Linked DNA regions of Homo sapiens: regions 2 and 3 are each linked to region 1. A link means that fine-mapping ties the variant in region 1 to the expression of a gene that starts in the linked region. Tissue or cell type: whole blood. Region 1 holds a variant in brackets; each other region holds the start of a gene. Each region is shown on its reference strand, or each on the opposite one. Region 1 overlaps TRIM58 (tripartite motif containing 58). Region 2 holds the start of ATP6V0C (ATPase H+ transporting V0 subunit c). Region 3 holds the start of LINC02915 (long intergenic non-protein coding RNA 2915).

Region 1 (5,883 bases):
CACCACCACGCCCAGCTAATTTCTTTTTGTATTTTTAGTAGAGACGGGGTTTCACTGTGTTAGCCAGGATGGTCTCAATCTCCTGACCTCGTGATCTGCCCACCTCGGCCTCCCAAAGTGCTGGGATTACAGGCGTGAGCCACTGTACCCAGACATAATAATTATTTAGAAGACAGTGATACAAAGAAGGCAGTAAGGTTAGCCTTCAATGACTTTTAACCTTTTTGTTGGAAAGGTACAGAATATACTTTAAAAATAAGTTAAATATTATCATGATTTCATCATCATCATTATAATGTATTTAAATGGAAAAGCTGAATTCAAACCAGCAATATCAAATATGACCTTAAATATTTACCATAACACAGTGAGGCCAGTATAATTGTTCCATGTATAGGAACCATAACAAGCAGCTAAAAGAGAGAGAGAAGTGTTGTTTGAGGTCTTTTTTCTTTTTTGAGATGGAGTCTCGCACTGGGCTGGAGTACAGTGGTGAGATATTGGCTCACTGCAACCTCCGCCTCCAGGGTTCAAGCAATTCTCCTGTCTCCACCTCCAGAATAGCTGGGATTACAGGCTCCTGCCACCATGCCCAGCTAATTTTTCTATTTTTTTTTTTTTTTTAGTAGAGACAGGGTTTCACCATGTTGGCCAGGCTGGTCTTGAACTCCTGAGCTTGTGATCCACCCGCCTCAGCCTCCCAAAGTGCTGGGATTACAGGCGTGAGCCACTGCACCCAGCCTTAAGGTCTTATAACTAGTAAATATCTGCATTAAAGAACGAGTTGAATGAAAATTCTGATAAATTCCTACTTAAAGTGTATCCAAAGAAAACGGAAAAAGTCTAGGAGTTAGTGATATTAGATTCAGAAGAATGAGCTTTGTAATTCTTAAAAATTAGTCTCAGAATAGAAAGGATTTTAAAAGTAATTGAGTAAAGTCATAGGAAATGTGACCATATAAAGGAATGGCTCTAAATGTATTAATCCAGAAGGAAGCAACAGGTTAAACAGTAAGAGGTAAGAAACAAAAAATAAGGAACAAGAGAGAGAGAGTGACAGGGAGAGAGAGACAGAGCGGGGAAGGAGAGAATGAGAAGGAAAATCAGGAAAACGAGGAGAAACAGAATTAAGGAGGTGATACTGGAATAGTATCAGACCATTCTGAATCAATTTAAGAATTGCCATGTCTAATTCTTATATGGAAGATTTGAAATACAAGGATATTGAAAGGAATAACAAATTATAATGAATGCATAGAAATCCTTATGTAATCCAAGGTCATTAATTTGAAGGAAGACATCAAGAAAATGTGATCTAGAAATAGAGGTTGAGATTGCTCCATTTACAAAATTATTATGCTCTATAATCTTCCCATATGCAAATATTTCATATTCCCTCTTTTGTCCCATGGACATATTTCACAGCAACAACGAATCAAGTGCTGACCTAAATGGGGTATCTGTTAAAACTTAGTATATTGATATCCTTCACCCCACTCCAGGAACGTTCGCTACGCTAGGACTGCATCTTGGGAACAGAATTTTAGAGATGATCATCTCTTACATCAGAAGCAGGATCTAAATGATCCCTGGATGCCCAATTTCCTGACCCTGCTATTGTTGTGGGTGGCAAGATAAGAGGAGTTGCATCACAGATGAAAAAGTAAGGCCGAAGAAGACCAGAGAAGAGTTGGTTGAATGTGTAGATATAAGATCCATCTGTGACATTGTAGAATGAAATTTCACCGGCTTCATAGTCCAAGAAAATCCCAATGCAGCGAGGACTTTCCAGTTGGAGAAGAGGCACTGATGGGGAGGCAAGGACCATGTACTCATTCCCTTTCAGCAGCCACAGGGCCCAGACCCCATTCTCAGGAGATGGC[G/A]TGGTTTCCCCCTTTCTTGGCAGTGTGTCTTGACAGACCCCTAAACCCCACTCTGCTCCTTCTCCCACCAGAACCTCCCAGTAATGCCTCCCTGATGAGAAGCTCTGCAAACCCAGGATGCAGGGCCATGTGTCAAATCGCTCAGGGTTGTTGGGGACATCCCTCCATGGTTCTCCATCCTGCACACTGCGCAGGTCGGCGGTCAAGAGCAGACTCGGGTGCGCCGTGGCGGGATCCAGCTTTACATCCACTGCGGAAAGAATGTGGTGGACCAGGTGAAAGGAAAGAAAGGACTGGTAGAAACTTAGGAAACCACTGAAAAGAATAGTCCCACAGTTCCTCACTTTTCTCTCTCTATTAACTCCTAGAGAAAACAAATCAGTATTTCACCTTACAGGTGAAATCTTCTTTATTACTTTATTATTCTTATTCTTTATAACTTTCTGGTATATTCCACTGTTACCTCTGCGTAACCCAGAACTCTTTAACTTTCCCAAAAAAAAACAACTATTGATGACGACAAACCAAGTGAATTATCATTTAGTTTCCTTTCATTTACATCTAAAGCATTTGTGTGTGTGTGTGTGCGTGAGAGAGAGAGAGAGAGACAGAGAGACGGGGTCTTGCTATGTTGCCCAGGCTGGAGTGCAGAGCTATTCATGGGCATAGCCGTGGTACACTACAGCCTCAAACTCCTGGACTCAAGCAATCCTCCCGTGTCTGCCTCCCCAGCAGCTGGGACTACAGGTGCACACCACCATGTCTGGCTTACATCCAAAGCATTTGAGTGCACTTAGGAGGATCTTCTGCATTTAACATAAAATTTATAAACCCCTTAGGAATTTTTTTCTTAAAAATCTATAGAATTTTATTAATATTAAATCCACTACTTCCAAAGTTATATTACTGTGGTAGGCGGAATTCTAAGATGGACCCCATGACCTTCACACCCTGGTGTTAGCCTCATGAGTATGTTACACTATATGACAAGAGAGAGATTATCAAGGTGCGTCTAATCAAATCCCACAAGTCCTGTAAAATCAGAAAGTTTTCTCTGGCTATTGGGTTGGTGGCAGCAGGAAAGGTCAATAAGATGTGGATTTGATATCTCTTTGCTGGCTTTGAAAATGGAAAGGTCACATGAAGAGACAAACGAGTGACCTCTAGAGCTGAGAGTGATCTCCAGAGCTGAGAATAGCCCCCAACCAACAGCCAGCAAGAAAACAGGAATCTCAGTACCGCATTTGCACAGAATTGTATTATGCCAACAACCTGAATAAGGTTGGAGGTAAGGTTCTTCCCCCGACCTACACAGAAGCCTGGCCTGGCCTGGCCAACACCCATATTTGGGCCTTGAGAAAACCTAAGCAGAGGAGCCAGCTGATCCCACTTGGATGTCTGGTCTTCAGAACCATGAGCTACTAAATGGTATGGCTTTAAGCACATAAGCTTGTAGTTATGCGTTATATAACAATAAAAAATACTGATACTCTGAAGTCCCAGTGAGATTGATGAGACATTTGACCCATATACATAATAAATAAATACATCTAGATATGAAACCTCAGTGAAGGGGGGATGTAAAATATTCAGTGCATTTCCTTATTAGCATTGCTTATAAGTAGTAAGTTAATAAATAATATGGTTTGGATGTGTATCGCCTCCCGGTCTCATGTTGAAATGTGATTCCCAATGTTGAAGGTGGGGCCTAGTGGGGGGTGCTGGATCATGGGTGCAGATCCCCCATGAATGACTTAGTGCCATCCCACTGGTGATAAGTGAGTTCTTTATCCGTTCATGCAAGAGCTGGTCGTTTAAGAGGAACCTGGGGCCTCCCCACTTCACTGCTTCCCTCTTGCCATGTGATACGCTGGCTCCTCCTTTGCTTTCCACCATGACTGTAGGTGTCCTGAGGCCTCACCAGAAACAGGTGCCAGCACCATGACTCCTGTACAGCCTACAGAACCATGAGCCAAAATAAAGCATATTTCCTTATATTAATAAATTACCCAGCCTCAGGTATTTCTTTATAGCAATGCAAAATCAGACTAACATGTTAATATAGTTTGATTTTTAATATCAGAACAAATACTGTTTCTACTGCTACTGCTACTGCTACTGCTACTACCACTACCACTATACTTATTTGCCTTTAAACACTTACAGTGAACTACTTTTTTTTTTGAAACGGAGTCTCGCTCTGTTGCCCAGTCTGGAGTGCAGTGGTGCAATCACAGCTCACTGCAGCCTCCACCTCTCAGACTCAAGCCATCCCCTGACCTCAGCCCTCTGAGTAGCTGGGAAGGCACACACCACCATGCCCAGCTAGTTTTCTGTATTTTTTTGTAGAGAAGGGGTTTTGCCATGTTGCCCAGGCTGGTCTCGAACTCCTGGGTTCAAGCAATCCATCCGCCTCAGCCTCCCAAAATGTTGGGATTACAGGCGTGAGCTGCCACGCCCGGTCTAGTGAATTTTTATTGATACCCAACCTGAGTGGTCACGTAACTGCGCATTGCATTATTTTTATTATGTAACCACCCTGAGGGTCACCATTGTCATCCCTACATTACACAAGAGTAGATTCAGAGTCAAAGAGTTTATGTGGTCTTCCCAAACTCTAGAGGTAAATAACAGAGATTGAAAGGTAGGTCTCCATGGATTGTGCATTTAACACAATCTAACAGGTCATGTATTCCCAAGCCATTCCTCTTCCGGCACAGTGGTCTGCTTCATTTCTAACAAAAGAGATCTGTGAAATGGCTTTTGATATGGTCTGTATCCCATTCCTCTCCCTACCCCTTCTCTCCTAAACTCAATTCTTCATCATGATGTGACCATACCCCAACCAAACTGCGCATGTCCATCTTCCCAGGGACCTCCGTGTTGATGAATGGTTACTTGTCAGTTTGTCTTTTTTTTAAGATGGAGTTTTGCTCTTGTTGCCCAGGCTGGAGTTCAATGGCATGATCTTGGCTTACTGCAACCCCCATCTCCCGGGTTCAAGTGATTCTCCTGCCTCAGCCTCCCGAGTAGCTGGGATTACAGGCATGCACCACCACGCCTGGCTAATTTTGTATTTTTAGTAGAGACAAGGTTTCCTCAGGTTGATCAGGCTGGTCTCGAACTCCTGACCTCAGGTGATCTGCCCGCCTCGGCCTCCCAAAGTGCAGGGATTTACAGGCGTGAGCCACCGCGCCCGGCCCAGAGTTCATCTTCAATGATTTTTCTGTATCTCTCAACACTGAGAATCTACTTGTGCTGGAAAATCTCCCTTTTCCAAAGGTAACACTCATCCATGTTTCCCTTCCCTCACTGCTCACTACTCCTTGATCCTCTTTGCTGTTCTCTTCTCCTCCACCACCACCACTGGAGAAACCTATAGTCCCAAGACTTGGACTTCTTCTCTCTCTCTCACCTCACTCCCTATCTACCCGGGTGCTGGCTGGTTCATTGCTTTGATAAAATTCCATTCATATGCTGACTGATTCCCAATGCATGTGCTTAGCTTTGAACTTTACCCTGAAACTCCCTATTGTACATTCATCTGCCCACTTGATAGCAACATTTGAATATTTAGCACTCATCGCAACATCCACATATCCAAAACCCTGTGCCCTTCTTCTGCTTCAACTGTCGCTTTCCTCATCAATATAAGTGGCAATCACATTTTGCCAGTTCGCAAGATCCAAAACCTTGGAATCATTCATGGCTCTTCCTGTTTATAGCACATCATATATAATCCAACAGCAAATCTTAACAGCTCTGCCTTCAGTATATAACAAAAATCTGTCCATCTTGCGGCACCTTCCGTAATAACATCTATTCCAACACATAATCATCTCTCATCAAATTACTGCAAAGACCCTTAACTGCTTTTCCCATGTCAATCTTCTCCTCTCTGTAATTTACTTACAAGAAAGCATATAGAGTGATCCTCATAAAACATTAGTCCAATCAAACTATTTTTCTAGGTACAACTTTCAACTATGTCCTATTTCGC
Region 2 (5,883 bases), not on the chromosome of region 1:
CCAGGAGCTGGGGACACAGCTGGAGGTTGGCGTTGTGGCAACAGCAGAGGCCACTGGAGGGCAGGGGGCTTGTTTAGGTCGGCACAGCAGGTGAAGCCAGGTCCTGGAGGAAAGCATGCTGAGAAGGCAGAAATGAAGTCAGAAGTTGAGCCAGTCATGGTGGCTCATGCCTATAATCCCAGCCCTTTACGAGGCAGAAGCAGGTGGATCGTTTGAGGCAACAAGGAGTTTGAGACCAGCCTGAGCCACATGGCGAGACCCTGTCTCTAAAAAAAAAAAATTAGCTGGGCATGGTAGCCTGTGCCTGTAGTCCTAGTTATTCAGGAGGCTGAGGCAGGAGGATTGCTTGAGCCTGGGAGGTTGAGGCTGTAGTGAGCCATGACCACACCACTGCACTCCAGCCTGGGAAACAGAGCAAGACCCTGTCTTGAGGAGGGGAGAAAAAAAAAAAAAAAAAAAAAAGCAGTTGTCTGAATTGGCCAAGTGAAGTCAGAGGTCAGCTCCTGGAGAGCCACAGTAAGCCACGTTTATCCCGAAGAGCCAGGGATAAGCAGGAAAGGCCTAGGCCAGCAATACCGTGTTCTCAATTTCCAGACACCTGCTGGTCAGGCTGCCCAAAGACCTGTGTAGGTCTTGACGGAGAGAGAGGAAAGGAGCTGGGTGCAGAAAAAGGGCTTGGTGGACAAACTCAGGGCTTCAAGGGCAAGCAGCAACAGCTAGAATTTAAGTTCCACATGGGCGGGGATCCCATTTTGTTCACTGCTGTCCTACCAGTACCTGGCACATAGTAAGCGCTCAATCAAGATTGTTTGGATGAATGAGTGACAGCCACAAGCTAATACCCCACAGGTGGCCAGGCAAAATGGAATCTCTGAAGGCATTCTGAGGGCAAAGAACAGAGGAGGCTGGGGGGAAGGGCTCGGCAGCCTGTTGGGAGAAGCCTTGAGTCTGTGGAAAGAGCAGGCGGTGCCTAGGGGGAAGGAGAAGTCTAGACCACTTCTTCCACCACAAATGACCCCTTACTTGCACACGACGGGAAGGCCAGGGCTCACTCACGAATGGCAGACAGGCCCAGGCAGAAGGAGGCCCGCAAGAGAACAGAGAGCTCCAAGCCCCCACCCCACAGGTGTTTACAGTCAGCAGAGACTGTTTGGAGTTCAAACCCTCCACATATCTGCACTAGGAGCCTCCCCAGGCCACCAGGCAGGGTGGGGCAGGGCACGGTCATCAAAGCTAAAACCAGACCTAACCACGGAGGCGGAAATCAGACCAGGCCAGGCCAGTCCACGGAGGCTGAGACTGGGCCAGAACTTAACTCGTCGGACCCACATTCCTGGGCCTAGCCCTAGCCCAAGTGCCATTCTCCCAGGGAGACCAATTGTCACTAAATTGGACGCCCAGGACCTGTCAAGGCCCAATTTCAAAAGCAGGGTGCCACCAAGAACCCTAGAAGGCCCCTTCTCCAAGCCCAGGGAAGCCCCTCCCAACTTCAGGCCTCAGGGAGGGAAAGGAAGGTCATTCATTCACCCCTCCATTCATTAGGACCACAACTGGAAGCCTCAGTCCTGAGGGCAACGACTGGATCCCATAAACTCGGACACCCATGCCACCCTCTCACCCACCTCAGAGCACAGACCCTCTGCAAGCTACACAGCCCCGCCAGCGCCGATGCTGCTGTCTCCCCGCTCCCTCCACTTCCACACACTCCCACCCGGGTCTCCGCGGGCTCTCCGAACCAAGCCCTCAGCCCAGCTTTCCCAAACAGCCCACACAGCGACACGGGTATTGGGCAACTGTAACCAGCTCCAACCGGAAGTACCTGCCTGTGGGTGAGACCCACCTGACCCTCGGGGCCGGCCGCCATAAGGGCGAGGGCTGAGGACCTCCCGTGGGGGACATGGGCTCCCCACCAGCCGGAAAGCTCCAGCGACCGGCTGGGCGTTCCTGGGCCGGACCCGCGCCGCCGCCCGCGCACTGGGGCCTTCGAGGTGTGATGTCACCTGCCCGCAGAATCGGCCCCCCTCGCGCCGCCCCCCTCGCGCCCCCACCCCAGCCTCCCTCTCGCCGCTCCCGGGGCTAATATGGCAGCGGCGCCGCCGCCCCACCCCCGCAACCGCACGACCCGGCTGGCAGGGCCGCCGGCCCGGACCCCCGAGACTCACACCCCGGCCAGGCCCGCACGCCCTGCGCCCCGGACCCCCGGCGGCTCCCCGCAGCCCTCGGGGCGCCGACCCCCGCCCGCTGTCACACGAGGCCCGGGCGCCCCCGACAGCTCGGGATTACGTCAGAGTGACGTCACACACCGGACCCCGGCGAGCTGCGGGCATGAGCAACGCGCGCGCCCCCGCCCCCGAGTCCCTCCCGCCGCCGCGCTCACCGCTGAAGACCATGGCGGCCGAGGCGCCCATGACGGCGAAAAACGAAGCATACTCGGGGCCGCTCTTGGACTCGGACATGTCTGCGGGTGGGGAGGGGGCAAGCTCTGCGGGCCGAGGCGGTGGCGGAGGCGGGGGCGAGGACGGGCCGGGCACGAAGGTTTGCGGGCGGGCGGCGGCGAAGGCGATCCGGCCCGTCAGCCGCTGCGCTCTAAATACCAGCACCGCAGAACAAAATGGCGGCCGCGGCCGCGTCACATGACCTGGGCCCCGCCCCTGCGAGCCGTACCACTTCGCACCGTGGGGGAGACGCGTCCCCGGGACGCCCGGCCGGCCCGTTGACCTCCCCCGGGCTGTGCCGCCCGCCCAGCGACCCGGCCCCGGCGCCCGGCCCCGCCCTGCCTCGGCCTCCGCGGGTGTTTCCGGGCGCCGCCGGCCTCTGGATCTCCGCAGCGTTGGACCGGTCTCGCGCCGGGGCGGGGCGGTGTGGTGTGTGCTTCATTAGCATACGGGGCGGGGCCTCGGACGCCCCGCCTCCTCTGCGGCTGCGCGTCGTCTGCAGGTGTTGGGTTCCCGGCGACGCTTTTCTTTGTACCCCTGGCGTGAAGCTGCAGGCCGTGGTTTCGCGGCCTTGCCCCCAAGACGGGGCCTCACCCCTCCGGGCGCTGGTCTTCCAGGATCTCCCTACCAATCCTGGGCGAGCTAAGGGTCCCAGCAGATGTGCGGCGCGCGGGCCTCCTCTGCCACAGCGTCCGGAAAAGCCCCCAGCCCACACCTGTGAAGTCCCAGCCCGTGGCTGCGGTCACCTCCCTCCACCCTGTCCCCAGTCTCCTCCAGACCCAGACCTACTGCCTCTGACCCAGCAGTTGGTGACTTCACCTCTCGCTTCGGAGAAAAAGGACCCCCTCCCCGCACCTGTCTCTGCCTTTGCATCAGGGACCCAAACATTAGTGGGGTGTGTCTCTGCCCCTCAAGATGTAGGCATGACTGGTGGAAGCCCTGTCGGAACTGCGACCTCTGGAGGCCCCCCGGGCTCTGCACGTTCTGGCGTCCTGGTCCTCCCACCTGTCCTTGCAGCCACCCACTCACGCAAAGCCTGCACCTTCAGGGCCATCTTTCTGTCTTTCTGGAGCAGTTGGAGCGGTTCCCGCAGCCGTGAAAGCAGCCCAGCCAGGGCTGGCGCTGCCCTACTGATCCTGTGTGGCAGTCCCTGGCACCCCCTCTGCCTGATCTCCATTCCCCCTTTCAGGGGCCCTGGGCAGCTGCCACCAGGCCTGAGTGTCCTTTGAGCTCTAAGGCCTCATCCTGGGTTAGAGCTCTCCCTGAGTAGCCTGGATGCTGGCTCATCACCTTCTCTATGTAGGCAATGGGGTCATGGCCCCTGGTCTGGCCCTCCTGCTGGACTCAGCCCCACCTTCCCCAGCAGGAGCCTCCCTCAAGCCCCTTCCCCAGGCTAGCCTGGGTCTGCCACTCTTGGAACTTGCAGCCCGTGAAAGTCCCTAAGTCTGTCCTGGTTCAAAGGAGAGGAGGCAACAGATACGGCCAGAGGCCCTTTCTGCTCCTCCCTCTTTCTTGCCCGGCCCTTGTTTCTGAGAAGACGAATCTTCACTCTGTCTCCACCTCCTCACCTGCCCTTCCCTCTCCAGCTCCTTGCCCTTGCCAAGGTCACTGGTGACCGCCATTTCTCTAAGCAGAAGGACATCTGTCAGGCTGTCCAAGTGGACCTCTGTGCTGCGTGGCCTGCCACCCTCTCCACACACTCTCCTCTCTCCTGCGGACTTCCTAAATCTCAGACGCCCTCATTCTTCCTGGAGTCACAAGGCCCTGTAGCCCCAATTTTGCTGCAGGTCCTGGCATACCCAGGGCTACCCCTAGCTCTGCCCTTCCCCTGCTTGATCCCATCCTTTCCCTGGCTTTGTCCCCCATCTTACGCCGTCTTGTCCCTCACCTGCACCATTCCAGCCCCGACCGCCCTCTGAGTGAGAGCAACACCAGTGCCTGCCCCCATAACTCCAAGCCCTCCAGGAAAGCCTAGGCCAGGAAGGCTGTGCCTGGGGCCGAATTCAGACCAAGGAAAGGTGGCGCAGAGCAGCCCACCATGGAGAAACAGCACAGTCCAAGCTCAGGGGTGGGCTGGGCACGGTGGCTCCCGCCTGTAATCCCAGCACTGTGGGAGGCCGAGGCAGGAGGATTGCTTGATCCCAGGAGTTTAAGACCAGCCTGGGCAACAAAGTGAGACCTCGTCTCAAACAAAACATTGTAGGGTGGGCAAAGAGCACCTAACTCCATTGTGGCTGAAACACCAGGACTGGGGACATGGGGACGTGGAGAGACTTCCCTCTTGCAGGAGCAGGGAGTGGGTCAGCTGTGCTCACTGGCCTCTTACCCATTCATTTTCTGCCTAAGTTCTAGTGTGAGAGGTCACACCGGGTCTCCAGTGTGGCTCCTGACACTTCAAGCTGGCGTGTCTGAAGCTGAGCTCGCCCCCACCCCTTCACCACCACCTTCCACTGGGCTATTTCCATTCCCGCAGAAGGCACGCCCATCCCCCCGCAGCCTGACGTCACGCCACTGCTCCCTCCCCACTCTGTATTACTCAGGATCCCGAGATCCTGCCTCCCCAGCTTGTGTCCGCGCCCGCGCCCCTGCCCCTGCCGCTGCCTGGCCTAGGTCTTCTCATCGCCTACCCCCAATCAACCGAGTCTTCACCTTAAAGCCACAGGTTCTTTCCAAAGGGCACTTTCCATCCTGGAATCCTTCGGCCCCTCAAGAGCCCTCCCTGGTCCCCTCCCGCTTCTCATCACCAGCCCCCCAACGTGTCTGCATCACCTGTGTCTGCACCAACTCTCTTCCTCACTCCCTACTTAAGAAATGCACCTCAGTTGGCGGGGTGCCTATAATCCCAACATTTTGGGAGGCCGAGGCGGGTGGATCACGAGTCAGGAGATGGAGACCTCCTGGCTAACACAGTTAAACCCTGTCTCTACTAAAAATACAAAAAATTAGCTGGGCGTGGTGGCACACACCTGTAATCCCAGCTACTGCAGAGGCTGAGGCAGGAGAATCGCTTGAACCCGGGAGGCGGAGGTTGCAGTGAGCTGAGACAGCCTCACTGCATTCCAGCCTGGGCGACAGAGTGAGACTCTGTCTCAAAAAAAAAAAAAAAGAAATGGGTCTCAGTATTTAGAACACCACCTCCTCCAGGAAGCCCCCACTTTCCTTCCCCTCCTTCTTCCTCCTCAGACACCCCCTTCAGGCCTCTCTGGATGCTCCCCTCACACTCTGTGATTTTTTTTTTTTTTTTTTTGAGATGGCGTCTCACTCTGTCACCCAGGCTGGAGTGCAGTGGCGCGATCTTGGCTCACTGCAACCTCCACCTCCCGGGTTCAAGCGATTCTCCTGCCTCAGCCTCTGGAGTAGCTGGGACTACAGGCGCCGGCCACCACGCCCGGCTAATTTTTTGTATTTTTAGTAGAGATGGGGTTTCACCGTGTTAGCCGGGATGGTC
Region 3 (5,883 bases), not on the chromosome of region 1:
GAATTCCAATTTGAGGATTCAGTTTGTGACTTTTGCTGGTTCTGAGAAATCAAGAAATACTGAGCCATTGCATGAACAGTGTCACTAAGTATAAGAACCTGAGAAGTTCAACTTCAACAATTCTTAAAGTCTCCCTTGAGTAGAAGGTGAATGAACTGTCATAATTGGGCAAGAAGTGAGTTTATTCTGATTGCAACAGTAGGCAGCTATTAAGAGACGAGTGTAACTCTGGATAGAAGTTTCTATGGTTTCTGCCTTCAGCCTTGTCATGTTCAACATTCTAATCAAGACCTAGATCAAAGGAGAAGTTGATGAGCTTAGTATTCAGCTGAGAGAGATGGGCTATGTTGGCTAGAAATTAAGCAATGAGCTCAATCTAGAAGATACAAGTTCTGAAGTTGGACTCTTAGAAGCAACTGAGGCTCAAGCACTTCTGTAGGCACTACATTCTGGGTAATTTAAAAAATGTGTATACTTATTCTCACATCCTTTAAGCTCAGCTGAAATCTACTCTGCAAAGTCATGCTTGAACCCTTGCTTTGAGCTAAGTGTTCTGTCAATTCCAACATATACACCTGTAATAAAACTGCTGAAATAATGTTAAAGACTCTTTAAAGCCAGGATCTTTACCATATTAATTTTCGTACTCCCAATGTCTAGCGTAGTGCCCAGCACATAAGGAATTTCCAATAAATTATCGGCTGTTGCTAGAATAAAAATTCAAAAGTAGGCAGTGTTGAGTTGGCAACTTAATTTTCTAAAAAGTATTAATTGCCTGCCTATATGGACAATAGAAACAACAACAACAAGAATATCCTGCCAATAAATCAGGCTTTTTGGCTGGTGCCTTGTAGTGCCTTGTAAATATTAGTAAGCATGTTTCCTATTCTAAAGTAGGTTTAAAAAAAAAAAAACTTAAATTCAGTAACTTCGTTTCACCTTCTTGAAGAACCTGCATTTCCTTTACATTTATAACCATTAGAGTGAGGCATGTTAAATAATTCAAATGAGAAATCCTAGTTTCCACCTTTATGTATCTCTCGGGTTTTCCTTTGTTCACCCAGTCTCCTGCAAAAATCATCAAATGTTCAAATTTATAGTTTGTGACTTGGTCACCCTGAACCTCTTGGTGACCCGGAATGAACATGAGATGCTGTTATTTAGCACTTGGAGCTCAGTTAGATATTAGTTTTCCTATAGTGAAATACTCTGATGCCAGTGAGGAAGGAAATCAGAAACAGGAATCAGACGATTCTGGCCAATCCTCCCAATACGAGGAGAGTGTCACTGACGGAAATGGGTCTGGATACTGGGTTTCTCTCTCCTAAATCCTTTGATGCCAGTTATTAAAATGGGTTACTTCTTACAGCCATGACATTGAACACTTCAATGAAATGATGCAAGATTTGGACTCCAAAATGTCCCCTCTCTCCCCTGTCAGCAGCATGAGCCTGAGCACGGCAAGAGTCAGCCAATATAGTGCACACACGCTTTGTTGAACTCATGTTCTTCCACCCAGGAGACTGAGGTTTCTGTGCAAAGAGTAATGTCAATCCGCTGGAAATCACTGGGTTGTCTGTTTCTTTGTTTATGACTTCTCCATATAGTTGGTTCTGCTCCAACTTATTTGAAAGGGACATCTGTTGGATGATTTGATGTGATGTCTGTTCCCTGAAAGTCATTTCTGACAGGGCGATGTAAAGGAACCTGAGAGGGAGCTCCGTCATGTGATGAGTGGCTCTTAAGTGCAGGAACAGATTTGAGAGGATTATCCAAGACAGTAACTTCAAGATCAAACTAGGCCATGGAGTTAGCCATAAGGCTCTGCAAATTCTTTGCGGCTCAGCCCTCTGGGGTCTCCTGCCACCGTGCTTGCCAGTAATGAATTTCACTTCCATGTGGGATCTTTCAGGTCTTCTTGACACACTGAAGCCATATGTGTTTCAGCCACTTCAGACATCATCCTGCTCTTTAACTTGAAGAACAGTCTAAGTCAGTGAGGTTTGCCATGGCATCAAATCTCCTTTTAAACCCACACCGCTTGAATAATAACTATGATTCTGGATAGTTGACTCATGAATATTTCCTGCGAAGGAACAATGAGGGTATTCTGAGGAAATTAAATCCATACAAGTAATTCCCAAACTTTATTCATGTTTGAATACTTTCTAACTTCAAATGTTTTTACCAGACTGGTAACACATAGCAAAATCAACTGATAAGATTGTCCTTTTTTCTTTCTTCCTCTTCCTCTACCTAACACTTCTCTAGTGTGGTACTAACTGGAGAAGGCACAAAGAGTAAGTAGATAGAAAGGGAAATGAAAAGTCAAAGAGCCCTACACTTTTTTTTCCCCCCTCTCTCCTGGTAGTCCTACTTCAAAGGCAGTGTAGCTTTCTCAGAAAGGCCAACCCACACTCAGAGGGTGAAGTTGGAAAACCCCAGCAACCCTATGATACACAATAAACCCATGTAAGGAGGTGGTCCCTTACAAACAGTTGGCTATGAATATCTTCTTTCAAATAGTCTGACACTCGTGGCATAATTATTTTTGTAAGAGTCCTCAGGAAAGTCTGTTTTGAAATACTGCATAGCTTAAGACTACAATAGTACCTTGCATAGTTCAATGTAAACATATCCAGGTGGCTTGTGAAGAAGAGAGGAAGCCAGAGGTGATGCTTCTCTATAGGAAAATGACACTGCAGCCAGCCCCCCGAATCCTGAGAAGACCCTAAATACACCACTCCCCCTCCCCGACAACTACCCAAGTGATATCCTGTGAGTGACTGGATTCTAATCTATCGAATAGTTTCTGTACATGAAAAAAAAATCAATTTTGGAATAAGAGTTGCCAGCAGAAAGATTTCCATTTATTAGGCACCTACCAGGTGCCTGATTCTATTGGGTACATTAAAGATATTCTTTCATTTAGTTCTCACCTGGAAACTCTCAAGGCTTGTTCACATTTTACTGATGAGAGAAATAAGGCACAAGAAGATTAAACAAACAATCCAGGCCAACTCAAGTGGAGGGATGTGTGGTTGAGTTCAGGTCTGCCTGTAAATCGCTTGAGGCCAGAAACTTTTCTCTATTTTGTTCACTGATGTGTCCCAAGTGCCCAGAAGAATGCCTGGCAAATTGTAGCTGCTTAGTAAATATTGAATGATTACCTTAATGAGAGAATCCAGCACGTGTACTCCTAAGTATTATTCTCTACAGTTTCTCCTCAGTCTCCTCACTCCAGTCTGTTACCTGCCCCTTTCTCCCATCCCATTTCAAAGGGAAATGGAGCCCAGAGCTGCAGTGGATGCTGTAGAAAGTTATATCTCTGTGTACATCCTGCTGAAGGAATGGAGCGATTGTCAGGGAGCTGTGTCATTGAGTCTGAGGCCTTACTTCCTTGCTCTCCCCCTTCTATTTCCTGCTTCCTCCCACAAAGATTTTCTGAGTCCTTGCTGTGTGCTGAGCACTGGAGACTCACTATGAACAAAGTTGGTATGGTCCCTGTCCTTATGCAAATTATTGAATAAATTATAGGTACGGTGAGTGTTTTGACAGAGAGGTAAGAATGTTATAGAAACATATAACAAGAGGACTCAGACCTATTCTTTGAGGTCAGGAAAGACATCTTTGCAAATTTTAACTTTAAGACAAGATATTAAGGATAATTAAGAGTTCCTAATGTATACCTTGGGTTTCCTGGATGTCTCTGCCTAAGACACTTTTAGGGAGGAGTTAAGACTGTTTTCCTATAATACTAAGAAGTCATTTGCCTTTTCATTCTTATTGCATTACAAGTGTACAATGGAGTTTTACAGAAGCTGCATAACATAGATTTCACAACAGATTGAATGCAGAAGCAGACATGAGAATCCATTTATCCTTTAGTAAGCCAGATATTGGTAAGATTTGCAAAAAATGCATAACAGCACTACTAGTCTCACTCATGTATTTTTGGTTTTGGAAAACGTGGCTATGTTTTCATAAAATGTTATTTATGTTAAGGTATAATCAGTTTACTATGTTGTTTTAAAATGAATTAAATATTTAAAAAAGAATTGGTTCTAATTTGCAACATGATATAATGATATAATCTACCTTTTTTAAAATGAAAAGGTCTTTGGGGTTCTTCAGAAGATTTGAGAGCACAAAGGGGCCGAGCCCCAAAAGTTTGCGAATGGCTGAGCTAAGAGAAGAGGAGGAGGGAGTGTTCCACAGTGAATAAACAGCCTGTGTAAAAGCCCTTCCCTGGTATACGACTTGTAGTTTTGAGGATATTAAAGAAGTCCAATGTGGTTGGAACATAGAAAGTGATGGAGAGAGAATATAATATGCAGAACAATGGGTAAGCAGTGCCATATTTGAGAGCAATGACTTAATCTTAGGTCAGTGGGAAGTCACTGAAGGGTTTTAAGCAGGTTGGAATTGATGAGATACATGTTGAGAGAGGAAGGAAAAGGAAAGAAGAAAGGAAAAGAATGGGGGGACACAGAGAAGGGAGGTCAGGAGGCTTTTGGGGAAAACTTAGTAAGCTATGAGGGAGGGACAGTAGGGCTGGATAGAAGAGGATAGATGTAAATAATATTATGGAGAATCTAGAGGACTTGGGTTTGATTGTCAGTAGAGAGTGACTTGTTTTGTAAAAGAAGGAATGAATTTTCTCATGGTTTTTTAGTCATACCACTTGATTTTAAATTCTAGCGCTAATTCTGTGACTGTGAGCAAATTATTTAAACTCCATAAGCTACAATTTTCTCATCTGTAAAAAAAACAGGAACAAGAGCCACAATTTCATATGGTTGTTGAAGTTATTTTAAAATGCACACATATCTAATATAACTGGATTATCGTAATTATTTATTTGTTTCCCTTACCTTCTCTTTAACTCTCTTTCTTACCATTTTAAGATGGAGGGGGGAAGTTGGCAGTGTTCTTCAGGAAACATAAATTCTTGGGAAGGGAGTTTGGACACCATATGCAAAATCTCCTCCTGTGATTCCTCTACACACTGGAGGTGTGCTTTCCTCAAGCACTTGAAGCAAATGTGTTCTCTAGTCTCTTCTCTCTCTCTCTTTTTTTCCCTGAAGACTACTCTGTCATTTAAGTTCAGTTATTTTTGTCTTACCTGCTCACTTTGGACTTGAAACTTTGTCCCGTTCTTCTTGTTCCATAGTCTGATTCCTACTATTTTTTTCCTTCACCTTTCTCTTCCCAAAGTCTTAGGCTAGCCTTCTCTATTTCTCAGCTTTGTCATGCCCTTGACTTTGCAAGATTCTCTTTCCTGGCAACCACCATCTACAGACAAAATATTAATAACTTTGGAGGAGTTAGGACAGAGGCATTAAAATTATTGTAAATAAAGCCAGATAGTCCTTTTGACTGGGTCCTGAACTACCTTCTGTTATTCCTACAAGTATCTTTTGAAAGGCTGTTCTCAAATGCGTTGACTTGAGAATTTAGAGAAATATTCTTTCGGGCTGAAGGGAAAAGAGACAGAGAACTACAAGGTCACAGGACCATGACAATATGTTGCCTTTTGCCAAGTGGCCCTTATTAAACAGCCTAGGAGGTGAGTGGAGGAGAGCATGGGTCTGGCAGTCTGCCCTGGGACAAGGAGCTTTGTCTGCACGCAGGTTCCCAGCTCACAGACGGTCCATATTTGAATAGAGCCCATTGTTTACCACTTGGGTGGAAAACAGAGGAAATAGGCAATGAGTCAGGCACCCACTTGTTTCAAAAGGAATTTTTAAAAGAGTTTCAGGGAAATCTAAGAGAAAAATAGAAGTTTGAAGGAAGATGAAGGAGACAAGGACAAACTGAGGGCTGCTGGATGCTAATGACATGCTTTTCTTTGCTGATAGCCTATCATTCTGGGTCTGTGGG

Evidence for each region. PIP is the estimated chance that this variant, and not a neighbour inherited with it, causes the effect. A credible set is the group of variants that fine-mapping cannot tell apart.
Region 2: ATP6V0C starts here. The variant in region 1 is the best candidate, but not a certain one, in a credible set for the expression of ATP6V0C in whole blood (TOPMed, PIP 0.65).
Region 3: LINC02915 starts here. The variant in region 1 is fine-mapped to the expression of LINC02915 in whole blood (TOPMed, PIP above 0.99).

Annotation. Positions count from the first base shown.
Region 1 is chr1:247,872,150-247,878,032 of GRCh38, reverse strand. It overlaps TRIM58 (tripartite motif containing 58), which reads right to left. Exons shown (of 6, transcript NM_015431.4): 6 at 1-2,133. The coding sequence ends at 1,544. Among named protein-coding and RNA genes, the nearest start is that of TRIM58, 18 kb to the right of the region's middle. The variant G/A (reference allele first, on the strand shown) is at 1,884.
Region 2 is chr16:2,510,677-2,516,559 of GRCh38, reverse strand. ATP6V0C (ATPase H+ transporting V0 subunit c) reads right to left here and starts at 2,608. Exons shown (of 3, transcript NM_001694.4): 1 at 2,378-2,608. The coding sequence starts at 2,456. RefSeq lists silencers at 1,853-1,992, 2,413-2,892 and enhancers at 3,798-4,092, 4,883-5,486.
Region 3 is chr15:39,248,151-39,254,033 of GRCh38, reverse strand. LINC02915 (long intergenic non-protein coding RNA 2915) reads right to left here and starts at 3,365. Exons shown (of 2, transcript NR_144508.1): 1 at 3,171-3,365; 2 at 1-1,975. All of the region lies in intron 1 of LOC105370777 (a long non-coding RNA gene), which reads left to right.